2 linked regions of the Homo sapiens genome follow. The protein of the gene in region 1 purifies or fractionates together with the protein of each later gene. This does not show direct contact. Each region holds a gene or a part of one and is shown in the gene's direction. Other genes may lie near its edges.

Region 1 (7,285 bases):
ATCTGAAGCTTGAAAAATAGATTGGGGGCTGATTGTAAAGAGCTTCGTGTCATTCCCAGGATTTTGGAACTGATTTTACTAACATGAAAAAGGTTTTGTTTTAAAATACTGAGTAATATAGTTGGAACTATAATTTAGAAAGATAATAGCTGGTGCCATCACTCTTCTAAGCAAAGATAGTAATACATTTAATGCTCATAGGCTTTAGTAATACATTTAATCCTTACAGTAAGCCTATTAGATAAAAACCATTATTATCTCCCTTCTATAGACAGAGAAACTGGCATTAGGAGAATGAGAACTTGCCTATGGTCCCACTCTGGAAATACCTAGTAAGCGACAGAGCCAGGATTCAAACCCAGGCAGCTTGACTCCAGAACTTTCGCTCATAACCTTACACATCTCCCTCATGGTTGGTGTTTCTCAACCATGGATACACATTCGAACTGCAAGTAGCATCTCTAAACATACAGTTACCTGAATTGACTGAATCAGAGTGTCTGAAAAATGATGTGTGATACTATGTTTTGCAAAATCTCCACAGGTAATTCTGTTGTACTTTGCTTATAGTTGAGTACTGCAGGGATCTTAGGAAGTTAGAGCAGTAGTCCAGGCAGGAGATGATGAAGGCTCAAACTAAAGCAGTCTGTAGGAAGGAAGAGAAGGGAACCGGTTTGGAGACTTAAGCGGGGGAATTGGCAGTATTTGTGAAGTGGAAATGCAGTATTTTCTTGCAGAGTATGAACCTTGCCTAGGAAAGGGAGTAGAGGACCATACCTTTAGTTGTAAATTATCCTCTCCCAACTGGATCTGTTGATTTATGGCTATGGTGGTTGGGGAAAAGAGGATTTAACCATTTGAAGAAGTTTGTGTAGAGGATTATGATTGAACTCAGGCTGTTGTCCTTGTGTATAGTTTCATGCTTATACTCTTGTTTGTCTTTACTTCTCTATCCAGGGCCCTTGGAAGAAAATCCTCGCTGTGTCCAGGCTGAGGCGGGGGGCTAATGACAGTGTGAGCTCTAGATGGTGTGAGACCACCCCAAAGCCAAGAAATGGCTACAGCCGTGGAACCAGAGGACCAGGATCTTTGGGAAGAAGAGGGAATTCTGATGGTGAAACTGGAAGATGATTTCACCTGTCGGCCAGAGTCTGTCTTACAGAGGGATGACCCGGTGCTGGAAACCTCCCACCAGAACTTCCGACGCTTCCGCTACCAGGAGGCAGCAAGCCCTAGAGAAGCTCTCATCAGACTCCGAGAACTTTGTCACCAGTGGCTGAGACCAGAGAGGCGGACAAAGGAGCAGATCCTAGAGCTGCTTGTGCTGGAACAATTTCTTACCGTCCTACCTGGAGAACTACAGAGCTGGGTGCGGGGCCAACGGCCAGAAAGTGGCGAGGAGGCAGTGACGCTGGTGGAGGGTTTGCAGAAACAACCCAGGAGACCAAGGCGGTGGGTGAGGAGGGGGAGTCCTGATCTGTGTGATGTGGAGGGGGACTATTTGCTGGAAGGCTGGATTTGCGGGGAGAGCTTGCAGGATCCCCATAAATTATTAGTGGGCTCTGCCCTTGGGTTGCTCATATACCATGAGCCCCATGGATTAGGGGGATGTGTGTGTATGAATGTGACTTTCTGGATATTGGAACACCTGTATAGGGACCATCTGAGGGGTCTCAGCCACCAAAGGGTCATGGCTTTGGTTTTCCCTTCTTTGAATGTTGAGCCGTGGGTTCCTGGAGAGGAGAATTTTGTGACTTCCTCGAAGGTTCTCATAGATCCCCAGTCACAGATCCCCCTTCCTGGCTGGTCAGCTAGGGAAGCAGGCAGCAAGGAGAGCTGCAGGTGGGACAGGTGGAGATGGGAAGGAACCTTGGGTGACAGGGGCCCAGGCTGGGGGTGGTGAGAGAGCAGTGCAGGCCTGCGCATCCCCTGCCTTGTCCTGGGGAGGATAACCTTCAGCTCCTCCTTGCCTGCTCCATTGAAACTGGAGTTTCCCCTCCTTGTCTGGGTCCCTCTGGGAGTGTTTTCTCTAGGCATCTTCTCCTAAAATAAGCTCCCGTGACAACCAAGAACTTCCTCCTGACTCCATGGTGACTGGAAGTTGGAATTATTCCCAGGTGACTGTCCATGTTCACGGCCAGGAAGTCCTGTCAGAGGAGACGGTGCATTTAGGAGTGGAGCCTGAGTCACCTAATGAGCTGCAGGATCCTGTGCAAAGCTCGACCCCCGAGCAGTCTCCTGAGGAAACCACACAGAGCCCAGATCTGGGGGCACCGGCAGAGCAGCGTCCACACCAGGAAGAGGAGCTCCAGACCCTGCAGGAGAGCGGTGGGAAGCATCAGCAGAAAGGGGGGATTGTGGCAGAAGGCAGGCAAGGAGGGGGACATTTCTCGGACATTTCTCCTATACCAAGGAAGCTGGGTAGATAGACTGTATGGAAAGACATCACAGAATCCAGGATGTCAAGAGGAGACAGTACCGCCAGCTAGAGTCCCCCATAAACAGGGCCAAGCTTAGACAGCAGATTGTTGCTTGTTCTCTTGGCATTCTGATAGTCTCATAGGTGATGGGATTGGGATATGGGAGCTACCCTTAGGCCAGTTTCTTGGTTCCCATAATAGAAAGGATAGGGCCACCTTCCTACCAAAGATGGTGGGGGATGCCCAGATTTTTGCCCATTATTGGGGCATGCTGCATATTACTGATCTTTGCCTTCTTTTCTTCATAGAGGTCCCAGTGCCCGAGGACCCAGACCTTCCTGCAGAGAGGAGCTCTGGAGACTCAGAGATGGTTGCTCTTCTTACTGCTCTGTCACAGGTGTGCCCTAGTTACCTCTGTACCACAGAGAATTTGTTTGAAGAACCACTGGGCATAAGCCATACTAAACAGGTGAAGCAGGATGCACATTTACACTCTTGCCAGTTTTAAGCTCACAGTTCTGCAGGTACCTGGAAGGGGAGGAGATAATGAGATAAATTATCATACCTTATATTGGATCCACAGGCACCAACACCAGTTTATTTGCCATTGACTAGAAGAACTAACAAAATGGGATTATTTTGTAACACTCCAGTACAACTGCGAAGTTGTCAAATGAGGGTTTTTTAGTTTTTTTTTTTTTTAAAGGAATAAATTTGATAGTCATTTGTAAGTATGACAGACTGTACTGCTGAGACATTTAGGAAGTATTCACCATGATCAAAGCTCTGAAACTAAGCCATGTGGCTGGAGAAAAAGAAATAGAATTCATGTATGGTTTTAGATTGTAATCTAACTGAGGAAAAAAGTCTTGTTTTGGCTATAGAGTATAGAAACTATTGAAAGTGATTAGAGTCTTTAGGGAAAGTGTACTAGAAAAGATGAATTTTGCAGAAATGTATATAGCGTTAAAGTGTCAAGTAGGGAGCTGAATGATGATTTTTAAGACCTTTCCTAAATTTTAAACAATACCTTAAAGAAGAAGAACATAAGCTGGTCCTCAGGAAAAGTGGTGGAGTTGGAGGGGGCAGGGCCAGTGCCACAGGGGACACATGGCTCCCCCGAGAATGAGTTTAAGCAGCCCGCCACTCAAGCTCCTTTCATCTCCTAGAGGAGTCCACCTATTGTATGACCTTCAACAGGGACAAAATACGAGGCTACCCGTAGCATCACGTTTTGATGAAATCCTTATGTGGTTTCAGGGACTGGTAACGTTCAAGGATGTGGCCGTATGCTTTTCCCAGGACCAGTGGAGTGATCTGGACCCAACACAGAAAGAGTTCTATGGAGAATATGTCTTGGAAGAAGACTGTGGAATTGTTGTCTCTCTGTGTAAGGAATTTCAAGTATTCTAGAGTGTTCTAAGCCCAGAGATCTTTTTCCTGCTGGAAATTTTGGGGGATCTTAGACCTTAGATTGTATGCAGTGAACTTCTCTTATGCCTTCCCCACCAATAAAATTGAGGGATTAGGTGAAAAATATGGTGTCCTTTCAAGTAAAAGATAAATGGATGGAAATGGAAACCTCTAATAGGAAAACAAACTTGTAATATGACAGCTTTAGTGCAGAAATATTTGAAGTAAGCACATGAGTTTTAAAACAGTAAGAGTTGGAGATAATCTTTCTTGAATATGGGAAAAGAGGATAAGGTGTACAATGGTATAATTATTAAGTTGCAGGTGAAAACCACAAGAAAGGCAAGAGATACGCAGTCCTTGGTTAAAAGTACACAAACTAAAGAGATGAAAGATTTCATCACCTGAGCTAGCTATGTATTTGCCCCACAACCTACCAAATAGAAAAGGACCGCTCTTAACACAGGGAATTGTTGAGCCAATCGTGATATCCTATTTTCCCTCTCTTGAGCAGCATTTCCAATCCCCAGACCTGATGAGATCTCCCAGGTTAGAGAGGAAGAGCCTTGGGTCCCAGATATCCAAGAGCCTCAGGAGACTCAAGAGCCAGAAATCCTGAGTTTTACCTACACAGGTGAGGAATGACAAAAACGGTGTTACCCACCCTGAGCCAGCAGTTCCTCTAGGCAGTGCTTCTCTCTCTCTGTAGGGCCCCGCTCTCATCAGTTCTTCTAACATGTCAGCCAGTACTGCTTTCTCCCTCTGACAGCCATTTCTTCTGTCATTGCCCTCCTCTTTTCTCCTCCCATCATTTGTCTGATAGCAATGTAATACAAAAGGGTGAAAGAAAAATGTTAACTTTTGGAATTGCAGCTATACCATTTACTGTACAATTCCCTTAAACCCTCGATTCTCAATCTCTGCATTTGTAAAATGAAGATTATATTTGTGCATACCAAGGTTTGTTGATAGCATAACAATATGAGAAAGTGCTTGGCACAGGACAGGCATTCTATTTAGTCTTGCCATCTCAAAACCCTTTGTAAAAATCTCCCCATTGTGTAGAAGGCATTGTTGCCGCTACAGTGACCCCCTTTTTCCTCTCACCCTTTCTACAGGAGATAGGAGTAAAGATGAGGAAGAGTGTCTGGAGCAGGAAGATCTGAGTTTGGAGGATATACACAGGCCTGTTTTGGGAGAACCAGAAATTCACCAGACTCCAGATTGGGAAATAGTCTTTGAGGACAATCCAGGTAGACTTAATGAAAGAAGATTTGGTACTAATATTTCTCAAGTGAATAGTTTTGTGAACCTTCGGGAAACTACACCCGTCCACCCCCTGTTAGGGAGGCATCATGACTGTTCTGTGTGTGGAAAGAGCTTCACTTGTAACTCCCACCTTGTTAGACACCTGAGGACTCACACAGGAGAGAAACCCTATAAATGTATGGAATGTGGAAAAAGTTACACACGAAGCTCACATCTTGCCAGGCACCAAAAGGTTCACAAGATGAACGCGCCTTACAAATATCCCCTAAACCGGAAGAATTTGGAAGAGACCTCCCCTGTGACACAGGCTGAGAGAACTCCATCAGTGGAGAAACCCTATAGATGTGATGATTGCGGAAAGCACTTCCGCTGGACTTCAGACCTTGTCAGACATCAGAGGACACATACTGGAGAAAAACCCTTCTTTTGTACTATTTGTGGCAAAAGCTTCAGCCAGAAATCTGTGTTAACAACACACCAAAGAATCCACCTGGGAGGCAAACCCTACTTGTGTGGAGAGTGTGGTGAGGACTTCAGTGAACACAGGCGGTACCTGGCGCACCGGAAGACGCACGCTGCTGAGGAACTCTACCTCTGCAGCGAGTGCGGGCGCTGCTTCACCCACAGCGCAGCGTTCGCCAAGCACTTGAGAGGACACGCCTCAGTGAGGCCCTGCCGATGCAACGAATGTGGGAAGAGCTTCAGTCGCAGGGACCACCTCGTCAGGCATCAGAGAACACACACTGGGGAGAAACCATTCACGTGCCCTACCTGTGGAAAAAGCTTCAGCAGAGGATATCACTTAATTAGGCATCAGAGGACCCACTCAGAAAAGACCTCCTAGCTAGGTCCCCATGTGAGGAGATCTGCTTTCAGCCCTCACCTAAGGGAGGTGAGGAAGAGGAAAAGCCCTCTTGTCAGCCTGGGAAGACCTTTTCGAGGGAGTCTCCCTGACCTGCTCAGATCTGACATTACCTCTTCCTGCAACTAAACACGAGCCTGGGCAGAACCTCTCAGCCTTCCTCTACGCCTTGAGGGGATGTTTCATCCAAAGTACAACCTGAATTGAGGCTTCTCCTTCACTGGAGTGCACCTGCCTCTACCTCATGGGTATAAAGTAGGAGAACTAAGAGACTTAAGAGGTCGTGGTTCCTATATCGTCCAAAAAATAGGCTGTTACATATCCTAAAGACTGCTCAACAGCTTCAAGTTGAAAGTGGCCAAGGACAGCCCCTTAGGTTTGGGAAGGGACGAGCCTGAAGGATTCTGTCTTTACTGGGGTCAAATCTTAAAGCACACAGCTCTGGACTCAAGACAGGAGGTTTGCGTCCTGATGGCTTTGCCACACATTCACAGGATAACTGCATAGATCCCTCGCTGTCTGATTCACTTCTTACCATGCACTTTCCTTTGATGCTGAGGAGAAATGGAAGTGGGCGAAAAATCTCAAGGCTGCTTCATGTGGACCTTGTCAAGCTGCTCCCTCCCCCAGCGTCAAATTGTTATCAGGTGCCAAACACTGCTAGAAAGGAGGGCCTAGTCAGAAGCCTCTTTCCATACGAGTTTTGGTTTTGTTTTTAATATTTTTTTCTATTAAAATACTCATGCATTTAACCTTCCCGTTATTCAACCAGTCTCTTGGTTGCATCCCTAGCACTTCTACTACAAGTGAGATGGTAGTGTTTGAGTGCTTATTGAGTAAAGCATAATTCGGTCATAATGAAATCGTTCACATTCCCTCATATGCACAAGCCCACCAACCCCTTCACACCCCCCTTCACAGGGGTCGTATGAGTAAGGGGATTTGGAAACTGTCAACTTACAAAGGCACTATAACAATTACAGAATCATGATTGCCATGGGCCACTTTATTTACATGAAGACAACTGGAGAACGACTAAGACCAAATTATGGAAAATAAGAAAAAGCTGTTGCTGGCAAGACCATCAAGACTGTTCTGACACCCTGTCCCCATCATCCCTGACTGAGTACTCTGACATCACGGAAAGTGTTGAACCTGGGACCCTGAGGAATTCACCAGGAGTAAATGGCTTTCATGTATTTGTGTTGTTTGCTTTTTCTTACGTGATTTTATGTTCATAGAGCTAGAAAGTAGCATCTCATGATGGCCCAACAATCTCTGTTGCCAGTTAAAGGTTCCTTGGAGATGAGGCTGAATAATT
Region 2 (5,302 bases), on another chromosome or scaffold:
TGTAGATTAAAGGGAAATGCTGTCTAGGTTCCAGGTTAGGGGCTCTTTCTGTAATTGTTCAGGAGCTAGGCATGACTAAGGGATGGAGGGGTTAATGGTGATGGAGCTAAGTGAAATTCTCCATGTAGAGTTTTTCTTAATCCTGTCCCTGCACAACATATCACTGCAGCCAAACCCATGCGTATCAAAGAGGATATTCTCGCCTGCTCAGCTGCTGAGCTCAACTACGGTCTGGCCCAGTTTGTGAGAGAAATCACTCGGCCCAATGGTGAACGATATGAACCTGACAGTATCTACTATTTGTGTCTTGGCATCCAGCAGGTACCTCTTGTGCACCACCTCACTTCCTGTCACTCTTAACACAGCAGGCAGGGTCTAAACAGAAATGATTCTGGGTTAGGCACGGTGGCTCACGCCTGTAATCCCAACACTTTGGGAGGCTGAGGCAGGAGGATCGCTTCAAGCCAGGAGTTTGAGACCAGCCTGGGCAACAAAGTGATACCCATCTACCCAAAAAATATTTTTTTAATGAAAAAAAAAAGCAGTTATTCTGTTGCACTCCCTGTTCCTCATCTTGTCCCCTACCTGAAGCAGGCAGCTTGCCTTTAATCTCCTACTCCAAATAGAACATGAGATATCAATACTCTTCTAAAATCAAAACTGCATTCCAGGACCGTTGGCCAAGGAGCAGTCTTCATTGCTATCCAGGTCCCCTTTGTAATCTTTAAGCCCATTCTAGGAGGGGAGGGATGGGTGGAGCTGGGATCCTTGAGTGCTGGGGTAATGTTTAGTTCCCCCTGGGAGAAGTCAACCATGTATTACCTGAGAAGGAGGTGTGGGCTTCTAAAGAACATCTCCTCCAAGCCTCCTCCTCTTCGAGCAAAGCCTGAGTAGCGCAGAGCTGTGGGTATACCTGGGGGAAAGCACTCGAGGCCACCTAATCAAGCAACTGTTTCCCATCGTCTCCTAATGATCAAGGACACCATACCTGGGGGCTTCAGCATCATTATCTTTCTTCTAGGACCTACAGTCTAGCCTTAGGTGTGTCTGTTTTTCTTTCCCCAGTACTTGCTGGAAAATAACCGGATGGTGAACATTTTCACGGACCTTTACTACCTGACTTTTGTTCAAGAACTCAACAAGTCTCTGAGTACCTGGCAGCCCACACTCCTCCCCAACAGTAAGGAACAGGGACGTAGCAACCCCTACCCGCTTTCTCCATTCTTCCAATCCACCATCCCGAGAGTCCTGTGCTGTTTGGTCTGCCACTCTTCACAAAGGGCCCGAGGGCAGGAGCGTGTAGCTGGATGCCTCAGGGTTTAGAGTTAAAGGAGCACAGGAGCGCCTGTTCTTGAACGTGAGATGGGGATCAAGACTTAGGTCTGAAGAGCTATCTCTAGGACCAGAAAAAGATGGCCTGGGTTTGGGTGGTAAGTAAAGAAAGAAAGCAAGAAATCGTGGGACTCCTCAAGGTTTACATTTACTTGTCTACAACTTGAGGGTGGTGAGAGGCGTTCCAAATGCAGGTGTGGAAAGTATATATTTTTTAAAGCCCAGTCCCACTGTGTAGTGTAGCAAGTGTAGCGAAGTGACAGTGTTTTATATACAAAGGTTACTCACCAAATGAGAATTGTGTGGGAAATGAGCAGGGCACATGGGATGGGAAGTGGTTGGGTTTGGGTAGCCACTCCCTCCTGACTGGCCTCTCCCCCTTGACCATTGTAGATACGGTGTTCTCTCGAGTGGAGGAGGAGCACCTCTGGGAGTGTAAGCAACTGGGGGTCTACTCGCCCTTTGTCCTCCTCAACACCCTCATGTTCTTCAACACTAAGTTTTTTGGGCTGCAGACAGCTGAGGAACACATGCAACTCTCCTTCACCAATGTGGTGCGGCAGTCCCGCAAGTGTACCACCCCTCGGGGCACCACCAAGGTGGTGAGCATCCGCTACTATGCCCCAGTCCGCCAGAGGAAAGGGCGAGGTACGAGGCTGCCCCCTCCCCTGTGCTTTTGCCCCTTCTCTGCCTTCCCCTTCCATGCCCTGCCATAACCCACCATACCTGCCAGGTCGGCCCTCTCCTTGGCGCCTAGCTTCCCTCTCCTGTTCCTGTGTGCAGAAAGGGTAGAAACAGCCAGTCCTCCTACCTGATAGGCAGTAGCTGTTGCATAAATAAGAGGTCACCCTCTGGCCTGTTTCCCCTCTTTCCTCATTTAAGACAGTTTACTTGCTTGCCTGCTTTTTCTGGGTGGTGGACAGGTAGGAAACCATTGGGTGTGTTTGGCTGTCGGGGAGGGTAGAATGACAGGCTTTCTGTGATTCTTTGCTATCGGGTCTAACAACAACTGCACCTTGGTTTCCATTTTTTCTGTCCCTGGACTTCTGTCCTGTCTGAGTGAAGTTTCCAAGGTCCTTTCTCTGGACCCATGCTTCTACCTGGACTAATGCACAAGGGGTTGGGGTCATTGCTGTTTCTCTATCCCAGAAGGCAAGCCCACCCTTGCAGTAGGGTCTGTTTTATCAGGTCTTTTGAATAACTTCTGAGATCACCTCTTCAAGATAGCAACTTGGGGGAGATTTTAAAGAGAGTCTTTGGCAGTGGGAACTGGGGAGGGTTGCATAACAACAGCCCGACAGGATGTTGGGTTGGCGTGGGAGAGGGAGACTGACCTCTTCTTCCACCTCTCCATCTTGATGAGACTGTAATTTGTGTCGTGACGCCTTCTCCCTGTGCCCTGAACTGTGCTCTTGGATGTGGCTCATGGAGCCTGTGTTCTTAATGAGTCTGAATCATTTCCCTCCCCTATAGACACGGGTCCTGGAAAACGGAAGAGAGAAGATGAAGCCCCTATCTTAGAGCAGCGTGAGAACCGCATGAATCCCCTCCGCTGCCCTGTCAAGTTCTATGAATTCTATCTCTCAAAATGGTGAGTTGGTGGGTTGGCAGGAAAAGCGTTAGCATGGGGACCCGAGGGATCTACTTTGCCTTGGTACTGATCTTCTGTCCTGCCACCCCCACTCCCACTCCCACCCCCGATGTTGCAGTCCTGAAAGCCTCCGGACTCGCAACGATGTGTTCTACCTGCAACCTGAACGGTCCTGCATCGCCGAGTCACCTCTCTGGTATTCTGTGATCCCCATGGACCGCAGCATGTTGGAGAGCATGCTCAATCGCATCCTGGCTGTGCGCGAGATTTATGAGGAACTGGGTCGTCCTGGGGAGGAAGACCTGGACTGAGCTCGTGTGCCATCCATATCCATCTTTCACATCAATGTCTGTCCTGTGGCCATGTCCCTCAGGGTGACAGGCCCAGGAACCAATGCTACTCATTCTGAAGGGCCCTGACTGCTCCTTTCCGCTCACCCATTCCCTGCCTTCTCTAGGAACCCTGGCTTTTATCTTCTTCCGTACCACTTGACAACCATGGGGCCCTGGTCTTCTGTACTCAGGGGCTGGTCTCCCAGTGATGGGCAAAAGCCAGCTTGCCCGTTTTCTTTATGCTTCAGAGTAAACCCCTCCTTCTGGGTCCAGACTCTGGGTGGAGTGTTAATAGCTCTGGTGATCCTGTTGGCTTTGGGTTTCCTGACCCATCCCGCATAGGTAGAGCCTCTTGTTCCTAGGCATGACCTAGGGAAAAACCCAGCTGCCTTCTCTGCCCTGTGCCCACTCCCTTCTCTACTCTTCCCCAGCACCATGCCAAAAGGTCTTATCTGAAAGGTAAGAAATAAACAATGAAAGCGATGAGGGGACCATTTACATAAAACACAGAGCTTAGACACTCTTCCCCTCCTATGAAATAATTGGTTGTTGGCACCATCTCACCACCGCATATCCCTCACCCCCTCGGCAAGCACCAATCCTTGGTGCTGCCGTTTTTAAAATCTTCCAAATGCCTTTTTTTCCTCAGAGGCAGAGAATGACTAAGTACGGGGAGCAGACTCCTGTTGTGCAGACTCCTGTCCCCTTGGTTTCTGTGTTTGTCTCTCTGCCATCTTAGGTTGCCATGAGCCATGGTGTCAACATGCTTAGCCCCCTCTGTAACTGCCTCCCTTTAGTTCAATGGACAGACCTCCCAAGGCAAAAACTACCTTCTGACTTGGGTTGAGGCTGGGTTCCCCTCTATTGTTCCCCTATCATAAGAGCTAGGCCAAGCCTATGGGACCTTGAGTCATGCAGGATGGGATCTGTGGTCAAAGGACAGGCGAGGAGCTGTGGGCGCAGGGCCTGCCGCCACTGCCTACATCTTCTCTCTTCCCCATCTTGCATTGGAGGTCCCAGAAAACAATTAGCTTCTGGCAAAGGGGGTACCCACTTCTTTCCCTGTTGACTTTGCTGTTTCCCAGGCTCCTTTTTGTGTTTTTATAACTGTCACCAGTTAGCCACTGTTTAAATTGTATATATTGTTCTGAGGCGCCTGGCCTGTCCCTTCAGTGAGCCATGCCCACCCTTGTGTTGTAGTGAGAAGCTGTTGTCACGACTAACCTTCTGTCTCTGAAATTGTTTGTTTCAAATAAAGAGTTAAAATTGTCTTTTGTCTTTTCTGGGTGATGGATATAGAGGAGCAACACTGGATAACTTCAAATCTCTCCAAGTGTAAACAAGTCAGGTGTTTGAGAATCGTTCTTACTTTACTGTCTTACTTTGGATCTACTGGGAATGTGGTGTTTTTTTTGTTTTTTTTGTTTTTGTTTTTGTTTTTTTTTTATAACAAGTTTCCAAACACTTAAGGAAAAAAAAATACTCACTCACTAGCTATGTATTAAGGACCTATTATGTTTAAAGACCTAGATTACGTGCTTCAAAAAATACAAAAAGACTGGTTAGACCAGGATCCAATCCCCAGCAGGCTCCCAGGCTATAGGGGAGACCAAATAGTACACAATTAGTCATAATACAGGCAGAATAAAATGAATAGTGCTATGGGAGGACAGAGGAATAAATAACTCACTTCAGGTTTACAGGGAGGCTGGGTGCAGTGGCTTGCGTCTGTAATCCCAGTACTTTGGGAGGCCAAGGTGGGAGGATTCCTTGAACCCAGGAGTTCAAGACTAGCCTGGGCAACATGGCAAAACCCCATCTCTAACAAAAATACAAGAATTAACTGGGCATGGTGACGCACACCAGTAATCACAGCTATTGAGGAAGCTGAGGCTGAGGAGGATCGTTTGAGCCTGGGAGGCGAGGTTGCAATGAGCCCAGACCACCCCACCGCACCCATTCTGGGTGACAGAGTGAAACTTTGTCTAGAAAACAGACAACACACGTTTATAGGGAGGCTATGTGAGGGTTTACCAAGGGAGGTGGC

Evidence for each region.
Region 2: the proteins of ZNF202 (region 1) and ZMYM3 purify together in Homo sapiens (affinity purification with mass spectrometry; 2 studies listed by BioGRID and IntAct, with this or other methods). This does not show direct contact.

Annotation. Positions count from the first base shown.
Region 1 is NC_000011.10:123,724,658-123,731,942, reverse strand, and holds part of ZNF202 (zinc finger protein 202), read left to right. Parts: intron 1-271; exon of another isoform or gene 272-544; intron 545-957; 5' UTR 958-1,054; coding exon 1,055-1,456; intron 1,457-2,117; coding exon 2,118-2,328; intron 2,329-2,728; coding exon 2,729-2,817; intron 2,818-3,680; coding exon 3,681-3,810; intron 3,811-4,347; coding exon 4,348-4,467; intron 4,468-4,951; coding exon 4,952-5,946; 3' UTR 5,947-7,285. UniProt on the Homo sapiens protein: Transcriptional repressor that binds to elements found predominantly in genes that participate in lipid metabolism.
Region 2 is NC_000023.11:71,238,848-71,244,149, reverse strand, and holds the end of ZMYM3 (zinc finger MYM-type protein 3), read left to right. Parts: intron 1-169; coding exon 170-321; intron 322-1,065; coding exon 1,066-1,180; intron 1,181-1,725; coding exon 1,726-1,980; intron 1,981-2,805; coding exon 2,806-2,923; intron 2,924-3,041; coding exon 3,042-3,234; 3' UTR 3,235-4,526; downstream 4,527-5,302. UniProt on the Homo sapiens protein: Plays a role in the regulation of cell morphology and cytoskeletal organization.